2 linked regions of the Homo sapiens genome follow. The protein of the gene in region 1 interacts with the protein of each later gene in a pairwise test. Each region holds a gene or a part of one and is shown on either strand. Other genes may lie near its edges.

Region 1 (5,481 bases):
TTGCCCTCCCCACCTGCACTTATATATTCCTGAAACAGAGTGACTGGCCAGAAGGATACCAGCTGGCATCCTCTATGAACTTCCGTTTTCCCCAGTGTGTTCCTATAAACTTAAAAACTCTTATTCCCAATGCCAGTAATGAAGCTATTCAGCTCATGACCGAAATGTTGAATTGGGATCCAAAGAAACGACCGACAGCAAGCCAGGTAAGAGGAGTCTTCCTGTTAGACCTTTAAAAATGTTTAGGTTTTGTAATATCAGGGATGTTTTCATTTACAAAGGCAGGTCTATTCTCAACCAGGATTTTACTAAGAGAATTAAACACAAAGTCCTAGGCATCCAGCGTATGTAATAAATTAATTTCTAGGCATATAATATCATTGGGAGAAATGCAGAAATAGCCACACCAATGATTTTCTGAGTTTTGTGGTTCAAATGAAGAACCCTGAGGTTGCAACAAGGAATCAATCTGCAATGATAAAAATTCAGACCTGCGACAGACTAGTTATGAAGGAATCTGTCATGGAAGCAAAAAGGCATCTCATGAATCATTCCACATAGTAGACTTTCCTATGCTGCCTTTACAGTTTAGGGGTGGGATTCTGGTTCACTTTATACAACAGTATCATCCCTTGCTGGGACTGGAGTGTGCAGCCTCTGGCTGCCACAAGAGGGCAGCATTGTGGCACCCAGGCTTTGTTCCTTTGTGACTACACCTGACATATCTACAGATGTATTCCAAGTCTAGGGCCTTTAAACCCAGTGTTTTTGTCTGCAAGGCTTCAATAAAAAGGCAATAATAAACTTTATTGTATTCTCATCATTTAAATATAAATTCCATGTGAAAATTACAAAAATTTATTTTGCTTTTTTTAAAATTAATCTTGAGAAAATGTTTTCTAAATGTCATCTGGAAGAACAAATGGGAAAGGATAGTCAAGATATGTTAAAACAAGAATAAGGAATTAGAGAGCGGTGATAGGGATGGACAGCTTGCCCCATCAGATATTAAAGTAATCTTTAAATTGATGATGGTAACAGTGGAAGTACTGGCATAAGAATTGACAAATAGCTGAATGTTGCAGAACATATGAGTCAGCACAAGGTAAACAAACGTGGCATCACAAAGAGGGGAGGACGGCTCAGTGGGTGATACTGGGAAAATTCATTAGCTCTTAGGGAAAAAAATAAATTGAGGTCCTTACTGCTCACCATACTTTACAACTCACAGAAGGGTTACATTTTGTTGTTGTTGTTGAGATGGAGTTTCACTCTTGTTGCCCAGGCTGGAGTGCAATGGCATGATCTCGGCTCACCGCAACCTCTGCCTCCTGGGTTCAAGTGATTCTCCCACCCTCAGCCTCCCGAGTAGCTGAGATTACAGGCATGAGCCACCACGCCTGGCTAATTTTGTATTTTTAGTAGAGACAGGGTTTCTCCATGTTGGTGAGGCTGGTCTCGACCTCCCAACCTCAGGTGATCTGCCCTCCTTGGCCTCCCAAAGTGCTGGGATTACAGGTGTGAGCCACCGCGCCCGACCAGGATTACATTTTCAAAGTGTAAAAAAAAAAGCACCCTAAACTGTTAGAAACAAAAGGAAAGCATACATGTGTATTTGATCTCAAGGTGAAAAAACACGGGTATAAAAATAATAGAAGAAACCACAAAAGGAAGATTCAAACAATTTGATTACATAAAAAGTAAAATTTTTCTCTATGTAAAAATCTTAAAATGGAAAGATAAGACAGAGAAAATTATTTTTAATTCTTAATATAATACTCCTACAGAAACACAAGAAAAATACTGAAATGTGTATGTGTATTTTCTTTTTTTTTTGAGATGGAGTTTCTGTTGCCCAGGCTGGAGTGTAGTGGCATGATCTCCACTCACTGCAACCTCCGCCTCCTGGGTTCAGGCGATTCTCCTGCCTCAGCCTCCCGAGTTGCTGGGATTGCAGGTGCCCGCCACCACGCTTGGCTTATTTTTGTATTTTTGTAGAGACCAGAGGGGTTTTTTTGTTTAGTTTTTTTTTGTTTTTGTTTTTGTTTTTGAAACGGAGTCTCGCTCCATCGCCCAGGCTGGAGTGCAGTAGCGTGATCTCGGTTCACTACACCCTCCGCCTCCCAGATACAAGCAATTCTTCTGTCTCAGCCTCCCTAGTAGCTGGGACTACAGGTGCCTGCCACCACACCTGGCTAATTTTTGTATTTTTAGTAGAGATGGGGTTTCACCTTGTTGGTCAGGCTGATCTTGAACTCCTGACCTTAGGTGATCCACCCACCTCGGCCTCCCTAAGTTCTGGGATTACAGGAATGTGCCACTGTGCCTGGCCAGAGACGGAGTTTTACCATGTTGGCCAGGCTGCTGTTGATCTCCTGACCTCAGGTGATCTGCCTGCCTTGGCCTCCCAAAGTGCTGGGATTACAGGCATGAACCACTGTGCCCAGCCGTTTAAGTGTATTTTCTAATTTTTCTTTTTTAAAATTTTTTGAAAGTTTTGTTTCTTTAAAGATGGGGTCTTACTATGTTGTCCTGACTGGTCTCAAACCCCTGGTCTCGTGCAGTTCTCCTGCCTTGGCCTCCCAAAGTGCTGAAATAATATAGGCGTGAGCCACCACACCTGGCCCATATTTTCTAATTTTTCTAAACATTCATTACCTTCATAATAAAGACATAATAAGTTTTTCAAATGTATTTTAAAAAGAAAAGTAGTAATGGGACATGAAAAAGAAACACAGGAAAAGAAATACAGATTACAAAAAATATTTTTTAAATGTTCAGTCTTTGTTTACTATTATAAAATGCAAGTAGAAATGAGATACCGTTTTTCATTTATCTCTCTTAGTAAGAGAAAGTAATTTTGTAGTATATAAAAAGAGCCTTGAAGACAATCAGAAATTATGCTCAAAGATGTTCAATTCCAATAGAAAACTGTACATTGAAAGTTAATCAAAATGTTTCCAACCATGTGCGGTGGCTCTGCAGTGCCGCACACCTGTAATCCCAGCACTTTCCGAGGCAGGCGGATCACTTGAGGTCAGGAGTTTGAGATCAGCCTGGCCAACGTGGCAGAACCCCATCTCTACTAAAAATACAAAAAATTAGCTAGGCATGGTGACACACACCTGTAATCTCAGCTACTCGGGAGGCTGAGGCAGAAGGATAGCTTGAACCCAGGAGGCGGAGGTTGCAATGAGCCAAGATCGTGCCACTGCACTCCAGCCTGGGTGACAGAGTGAGACTCTGTCTCAAAAATAAATAAATAAATAAATAAATAAATAAATAAATAAATAAATAATGTTTCTAAACTTAGGTTATGTGCATCTTTAATTTGGAATATACTGCCAGCATTAACAGTGAATTTGTAAAATAAAATTTTTAAATAATTTGGGAGAAATCTCATGCTAAAATACTATTATACAAATAATATGATTTTGTTTTTGAAAAATATATTTTATATGATGAGAAAAAAATACCGAAAAGTATAAAAAATGTTAGTCTTGGTTGTCTCTGGGTGTTAAATTTTTATTTTTGTCTTGAGAACTCTATACGTTTCTCATTCTCTACAATGATCACTGCTTCCCTTAAGTAAATAGGAAAAAATAAATGCTATTAATTTTTAAAGTTTTCCCTCTTCTTGAAGGATAGTAACTGGTATCTTAAAGTATCTTAAAAGGGAAGAGTTGGCCGGGCACAGTGGCTCATACCTGTAATCCTAGCACTTTGAGAGGCCAAGGTGGGCGGATCACGAGGTCAGGAGCTTGAGACCGGCCTGACCAACATGGTGAAACCCTGTCTCTATTAAAAATACAAAAATTAGCTGGGCATGGTGGCGTGTGCCTGTAATCCCAGCTACTCGGGAGGCTGAGGCAGGAGAATTGCTTGAACCCAGGAGGCGGATGCAGTGAGCCAAGATCGTGCCACTGCACTCCAGTCTGGGTGACAGAGCGAGACTCCATCTCAAAAAAAAAAAAAAAAAAAAAGGGAAGAGTTGTTATAAATAAAGCCTTGAAATTACAAAACACATCCTCAAAGTTTCCAGCTCCAAAATATGCATCATTAATTTAGGAATATTGACATACTAATTACTTAATGTGACTTAATTCAGAATTTGAGTACCTTCAGTGTGCTAGGCATTGAAGTATTCAAATTATGTATATTTGTGTATTCCACTGAGAATGCAAGTAACCCTTAACAAACTCTTTCTTGTGCTCTGTTTCACAGCCCTGCTTTTTAGTGGAAGTGGAAAGACCTAATTAGGGAGAGAGGTTGGTTAAGTTGTAGAATATGAAGACCATTTAAAGTACCAAGCTGCCTTCTGTTCCTCTAAAAACTGCCCTTACACATGGGAGGAGTTAACTGTTGGTCAGGGCTATGTTCCCACCTATGTGGGGACTGGCTAAAGGCAGGAGGTTCAGGGGAACAGAGCTTGACCATCTTAAGGAACCCATCCCCCCAAAAATGACCAGCTACTTTGCCCAGGTATTTGATGCCAATAAGGGAATTTTTCCATAGCTGAGCTACACAGGCTTTAGACATTCTGTAGAATATTTTTTCGGTTTTAGCCTTACTGACGTTGTGAACCAGATAACTCTTTGCTGTGGGGTGCTATTGTGTGCATTATGGGATAGTTAGCAATGTCCCTGGCCCTCTAGACACTAGACACTAGTAGCGTCCCCCAACCCCTGTCATTATAATAAGAAATGTCTCCAGACATTGCCAGATATCTCCCAAGGGGCAAACTTGCCTCCATTTGGGAAGCACTGCTATTAGATGGTGCCACCCATACACCAGGGGGTCCTTTCCCTCTCATGCAAGCAGTCAGGTGACTGATCTAGATAAAACTCAAACAGTGATCATTTTTCATAATATTTTTATATTTTCTTCCCATAAATGTCTTCTCTTTGCTGGTATACCGATGAAATAAACTTCAACAGTATGTGTTTGTTGTCCCCTCTTTAGATTTTTTTTTTATTACTAGTAGGTATATTGTTGTACTCAGGCTGAGAGTAACCCGGAATTTTACATACAGCTCTGGTTAATCATTTCAAATAATCTATATGGAAGATTTTCTTAATTCACTTTTTAATGTCTTTGAGTGTACTCTAAACCATTATTGGTGTGTAGTATTTTAGCTTGAAGTAATCACATTAATTTAGCCAATGTCTATAAATTACATTTTATTTTCACTAACAAATCTTTAAATAAATAGAACAGCTGTTTTGCTTAGATGTTATAATAACAAGTGAGCTTTCTATTTTTTCCTACTAGTACTTTTTTTTTTTTTTTTTTGAGGTGGAGTCTCGCTGTGTTGCCTAGGTTGAAGTGCAGTGGCACAATCTTGGCTCACTACAATCTCCTCCTCCCAGGTTCAAGCGATTCTCATGCCTCACCCTCCCGTATAACTGGGGTTACAGGCATCCACCAACACGCCTGGCTAATTTTTGTATTTTTAGTAGAGACTGGGTTTCACCATGTTGG
Region 2 (5,019 bases), on another chromosome or scaffold:
GAATGGGTTCTGAGGAGAGAGGGGAAGGCAGAACAGATGCATCCTCAGTCCCAGCATCCCCCTCTCCACGCCTCTGTCTTCACACACTGTGAAGCTCCCCTCAGCCTCCAGCAGCCCTCTCTGAGGGAAAGTCATCTTCTCCTCTGTCATTATGTGGAGGGTTTCTCCTTTCTCCCCACCCATTCTCACTCGAGGAGGTCTTTCCATCCTCCCCCACACCCTTACCATGAGGGTCTCAGACTTTCCCCTCAACCCCACGTAGTGAGTAGTGCCTCGTTTTTCTCACTGAGCACCTATTTAAAATTTCCTCTACTCTATTATGCAATACATACTTTCTCATTGAGGAATATTCAGAAAATGAATGAAAATAGGAAAAAACCAAGCCACCTAAGCTTTCACCCTCCCTAAACAACTGGTGTTACTATTTTGATGTTTTTTCTTCCAAATTTTTCCCTGTAGAGATTTTTTCTAAAACACAGCTGTAATCATATAGCACATTAAATTTGCATTCTACTTTTTATATTTGTGATGTCATAACATTTTCTAACTTGAAAACCCATAGTTGTTGTGTTGTTGTTGTTTTGTGAGTCAGAGTCTCACTCTGTTGCCCAGGCTGGAGTGCAGTAGCACAATTATAGCTCACTGCAGCCTCAACCTACCAGGCTCAAGCGACCCTCCCTCTTCAGCTCCTTCCTGAGTAGCTGGGACTACAGGCATGCACCACCATGCCTGGCTAATTTTTGTATTTTTTTGTAGAGATGGGGCTTTGCTAAGTTGCCTAGGGTGGTCTTGAACTCCTGAGGTCAAGTGATCCTCCTACTTCAGCCTCCCAAAGTGCTGGGATTACCGACATGAGCCACCACTCCTGGCCAACCCATAGTTTTTTTTAAACAATTTTTTTTTTTTTTTGAGACAGAATCTCACTCTATCATCCAGGCTGGAGTGCAGTGGTGCGATCTCGGCTCACTGCAACCTCCACCTCCCGGGTTCAAGAGATCCTCCTGCCTCAGCCTCCCAAGTAGCTGGGACCACAGGCACATGCTAAAAATTTGTTATTTTTAATTTTATTTTTGATTCAGAAGCTACATGTGTAGGTTACACAGGTATATTTCATGATGCTGAGTATAACCCATAATTCTTTTTTTGAGATGGAGTCTTGCTCTGTCGCCTAGGCTGGAGTGCAGTGGCGCGATCTTGGCTCACTGCAACCTCCCCGTCCTGGGTTCAAGCAATTCTCCTCCCTCTGCCTCCCAAGAAGCTGGGATTACAGGGGCTCACCACCATGCCCGGCTAATATTTTTTGTATTTTTAGTAGAGACGGGGTTTCATCATGTTGGCCAGGCTGTTCTTGAACTCCTGACCTCAAGTAATCCACCTGCCTCGGCCTCCCAAAGTGCTGGGATTACAGGCGTGAGCCACTGCTCCCGGCCTAACCCATAATTCTTAATGTCTATGTATGAACAGACCTTCACCTGTGGTGGTCAGTTTCTTTGGCAGTTTCCAGAATTTCACTATTGCAAATAGCAAAATAATGCATCTTTTTGTATGTGAATCTCACAATATCTGTTTTATTAAGATAGTAAAGAAGACTTTTTTACTACAATAGGGTTTTGCAGTAGGGAGAGAGATCTGGCTCAATTCCTTCACAATGCCTTTCTGAGAGAAGATAATCCTCAATCCCATTCTTGCCCAACAAGCATTTGTTATTAAGTTTTTCAACACTTTCATCACTTGGTAGGGAGGTCTCCATTCAAGATATGTGTCAGGGAACATATCAAAAGCAGCCATTCCCCTTTCCCCTTCCCCATGTTTTTCACTTAAGTATAAGAGATGGTGAGCTCTGTATTGGTAGGGATGTTCATCTTACGTGCCAGACTGACCTAGCACAGGTGTTTGTTTGTTTGTTTGTATTGGAGTTTTGCTCTCGTTGCCTAGGCCGGAGTGCAGTGGTGCCATCTCAGCTCACTGCAACCTCCACCTCCCAGGTTCAAGCGATTCTCATGCCTTGGCCTCTCGAGTAGCTGGGATTACAGGTGCACACCACCACGCTCAGCAAATTTTTGTATCTTTAGTAGAGATGGGGTTTCACCATGTTGGCCAGGCTGGTCTTGAACTCCTGACCTCAGATGACCCACCCACCTTGGCCTCCCAAAGTGCTGGGATTACAGGTGTGAGCCACCATGCCGGGCCGCATAGGTTCTTAATAAATATCTATTGAATGAATTAACCATCTTTAAAGGTTTACAAGTACCCACTGCCCCCCGTGCCCCACCAGTCTCACTGCCTGACTCCAAGTCTCCTACACTAGATTTACAATGTGACTTCAGACTCGGTCTCTTTATTGGGATGGGTTCTGGCACAGCCTTAAAACCTAGACTTTTCTTTTGCAGCACAAGTGCATAAATGAAGCCTGGCTGGAGGTCCTTGTCCTTGGGCCATGCACACTTCTGTGTCTCCATTATAGTATCTGCCAAACATGGTCAGCTACCCTGATTCTTCATCTTTGTGAACTTTGACCTTCAAGTCCTGTGGATCCACACCTGGCCCTCTGGGAATCTGTGGTCAGGCCTGCTACAACTGCTCATGAAAGTAGTTCATTCATTTGGAGCCAATTTCATGAGGGCAGACAGCATGTCTGACCAATTAGTGTAAGCTCAGCATAGTGCTGGGCACATAGTTTATAGAGCCAATTAATACATCCATTTTTGTCAGGTGCATCTGCTTCTGCTGGACTTGTCTGTCTGTTTTGGTCTTCTTGCCCTCCTGGTAGCAAGACTCTTGGTATAATCCTGACATCCAAGCCCTGGGATGGAATGAAACTCCAGACACTGACCTGGAGCCATCATTAATACAACAGGCTGTCATTAATATGTGTGACCTTGCATTTACATTTTTATAGGAATACTTCTAAGCACTTTTTTTATGGTTTGCTGACATTCACAATCCCATTTTTGGGATGAAGTGATTAAACCTTCTGGGTTTGAGGAGATTTCTCAGCAGTGGATGGAATTATGAACTCTTAAATCTAAAGAAGCATCAGAGATAATTTATCCTGGAAAAAAGTCAACGTTCTTCATTCTTCCTTGATGTTTCTAGTCAAATCAGTGAATTCTTCTGATTGTTTTCTTTGGGCCGAGAATTGTTTTTTTTTTGAGCAGAGACTTAGGGGAGTGCACTGCTGTCTAGATAACATTCTCATAGGCAAATAGCCTTGGTGTGTCTGGCATCGTGAGCAGTGAGTGGGGATTTTCCATCTGAAGACAGACAAAAAGAAAGTAGAGTGAGGGAGGTGAGCAGGGCTCTGGATCGTCCATGGAGACCCTGACATCCAGGAAACTTTATTTCCAAGGTTACCCAACCCAAATCGGCTGGCATGCTGGCTCCCACTGTTTGATTTTAATCACCCCTAGCTTAGAGAAACTATTCTGTAAGTTTAACGCATATTTATCTTGCTGAATGCTTAATGAACTGAACTTTCCTTGTTCAGTTGTAATAATTCACTAAACCAACCTTTTCTATTACTAAGCAAACTGCTTTAATGATTCTTATCTTTTTGGATCTGTTTGGGAGAGGAAGAAAAAGGAGACAGAAAGATACCATTACTGCTGCCAACCGTACTCTGTGAAGGAATAAGCCTTAAAGCTACTGCATTAGTAGTTTAACTGAGGGGAGGGTGCAAAGCAGATGTAACATAGCTGGACCATGGGAGAAAAGTAGAGATCTCTCCCTCCTGCAGTTTCCTGGTGTCTCAGGAGAAAGCTGGACTCTCCTCTCAGCTATTCCTCTCTTCATTCCATGCACAATCTAAGCCATGGTCTTTTTCCTTGTCTGCAACTTCAGTCAGAAGGCTTTTGATTTTCTTTATTATTCCGATCTAGAACCTCTGTCCTACTCTATTTGTTCCAGATTACCCAATTCGATTCCTAAAACACAATTCTCTTCCATCCCCCATGTTCTTGTATAACCCTAAGCAAAGGGAATGGGGAACTACTAGGGTACTTTTTAATTCTAGAGAGTATGAGATACCTGGGTCCAAGAAATTTTGACCTAAACATGAAGCAGGAAAAGAAATGGAACCATTAAGATGAAGTTAAGCTCTAAAGCTTCTTACCTTTTTCGGTATTTCCACAGTGGAGTAAACCGTATTTGCTGGATCTTCCTTTAGGATTGTTCTCTTTTAAAAACAAACAACAAACAAAAGAAATCATCACCCACCTCCTGAATCACATAGACAAGGCCAGAGAGACATTCAGAATCCAGAGAGGGGAAAGCAGAGATGGGAGGAGATGTGAGAGGAAAAGGAGGGTTCTGGAACAGGGAAGGGAGGTAGGAAGTTCTCTTGTTGGTGACTGCTATTATAATAAATTTTGATAACTTTTTTCAGGAAGCCATTACATTATTTTTAAACTGTACTGTGTTAAAATGAATTTCAAAAATATTATATATATATGTGTGTGTATATATATATATATATATATATATATATATATATATATAGAGAGAGAGAGAGAGAGAGAGAGAGAGAGAGAGAGAGAGAGAGAGATCTCTAGAGAAGTCTTCTGATACCATGATTCAAACATCCTGTCAAAGTCACACTCTTCTACCCACTGCCTTATGCAAAAGGAATCTGGCCTTTTGTGTGGCCGTTATGAACTGTGGAGGGGAGCAGGTGATTTCACAGACCACAGCATGAGCATTGTGAGTCAGAACCAGGTGCTCCAGAGACCACCAGCTTCTTCTGCACAGAAGAGAATCCATGAAGACTTGGAGGAGGCACAGGTGCATTGAGTTTTAAGTCTATATATCCTCACTCCCCTCTTCATTCCCATGTTGTCCAAACCCATGGAAAAACCTCACAAGGAGAGCCTCAGAGACAGGATCAGTTCTCAGGAAAGATGAGAAGGGACTCACATTAGTGTGAGGGATTGTGTCGTACTCTGTGTTCTCTCCAGAATGGGGGCATATGTTAGGAGTTTCCCGACAAATGTCCACTCTCTTCTTCTCTTCAATGTACTCTAA

The links.
Region 2: the proteins of MAK (region 1) and SLAMF7 interact in a two-hybrid assay, tested with the Homo sapiens proteins (one large-scale study listed by BioGRID and IntAct).

What each region holds. Positions count from the first base shown.
Region 1 is NC_000006.12:10,796,617-10,802,097, reverse strand, and holds part of MAK (serine/threonine-protein kinase MAK), read left to right. Parts: intron 1-38; coding exon 39-206; intron 207-5,481. UniProt on the Homo sapiens protein: Essential for the regulation of ciliary length and required for the long-term survival of photoreceptors. Phosphorylates FZR1 in a cell cycle-dependent manner. Plays a role in the transcriptional coactivation of AR.
Region 2 is NC_000001.11:160,751,341-160,756,359, reverse strand, and holds the end of SLAMF7 (SLAM family member 7 isoform a precursor), read right to left. Parts: intron 5,016-5,019; coding exon 4,912-5,015; intron 4,175-4,911; coding exon 4,112-4,174; intron 3,255-4,111; coding exon 3,183-3,254; 3' UTR 1,539-3,182; downstream 1-1,538. UniProt on the Homo sapiens protein: Self-ligand receptor of the signaling lymphocytic activation molecule (SLAM) family.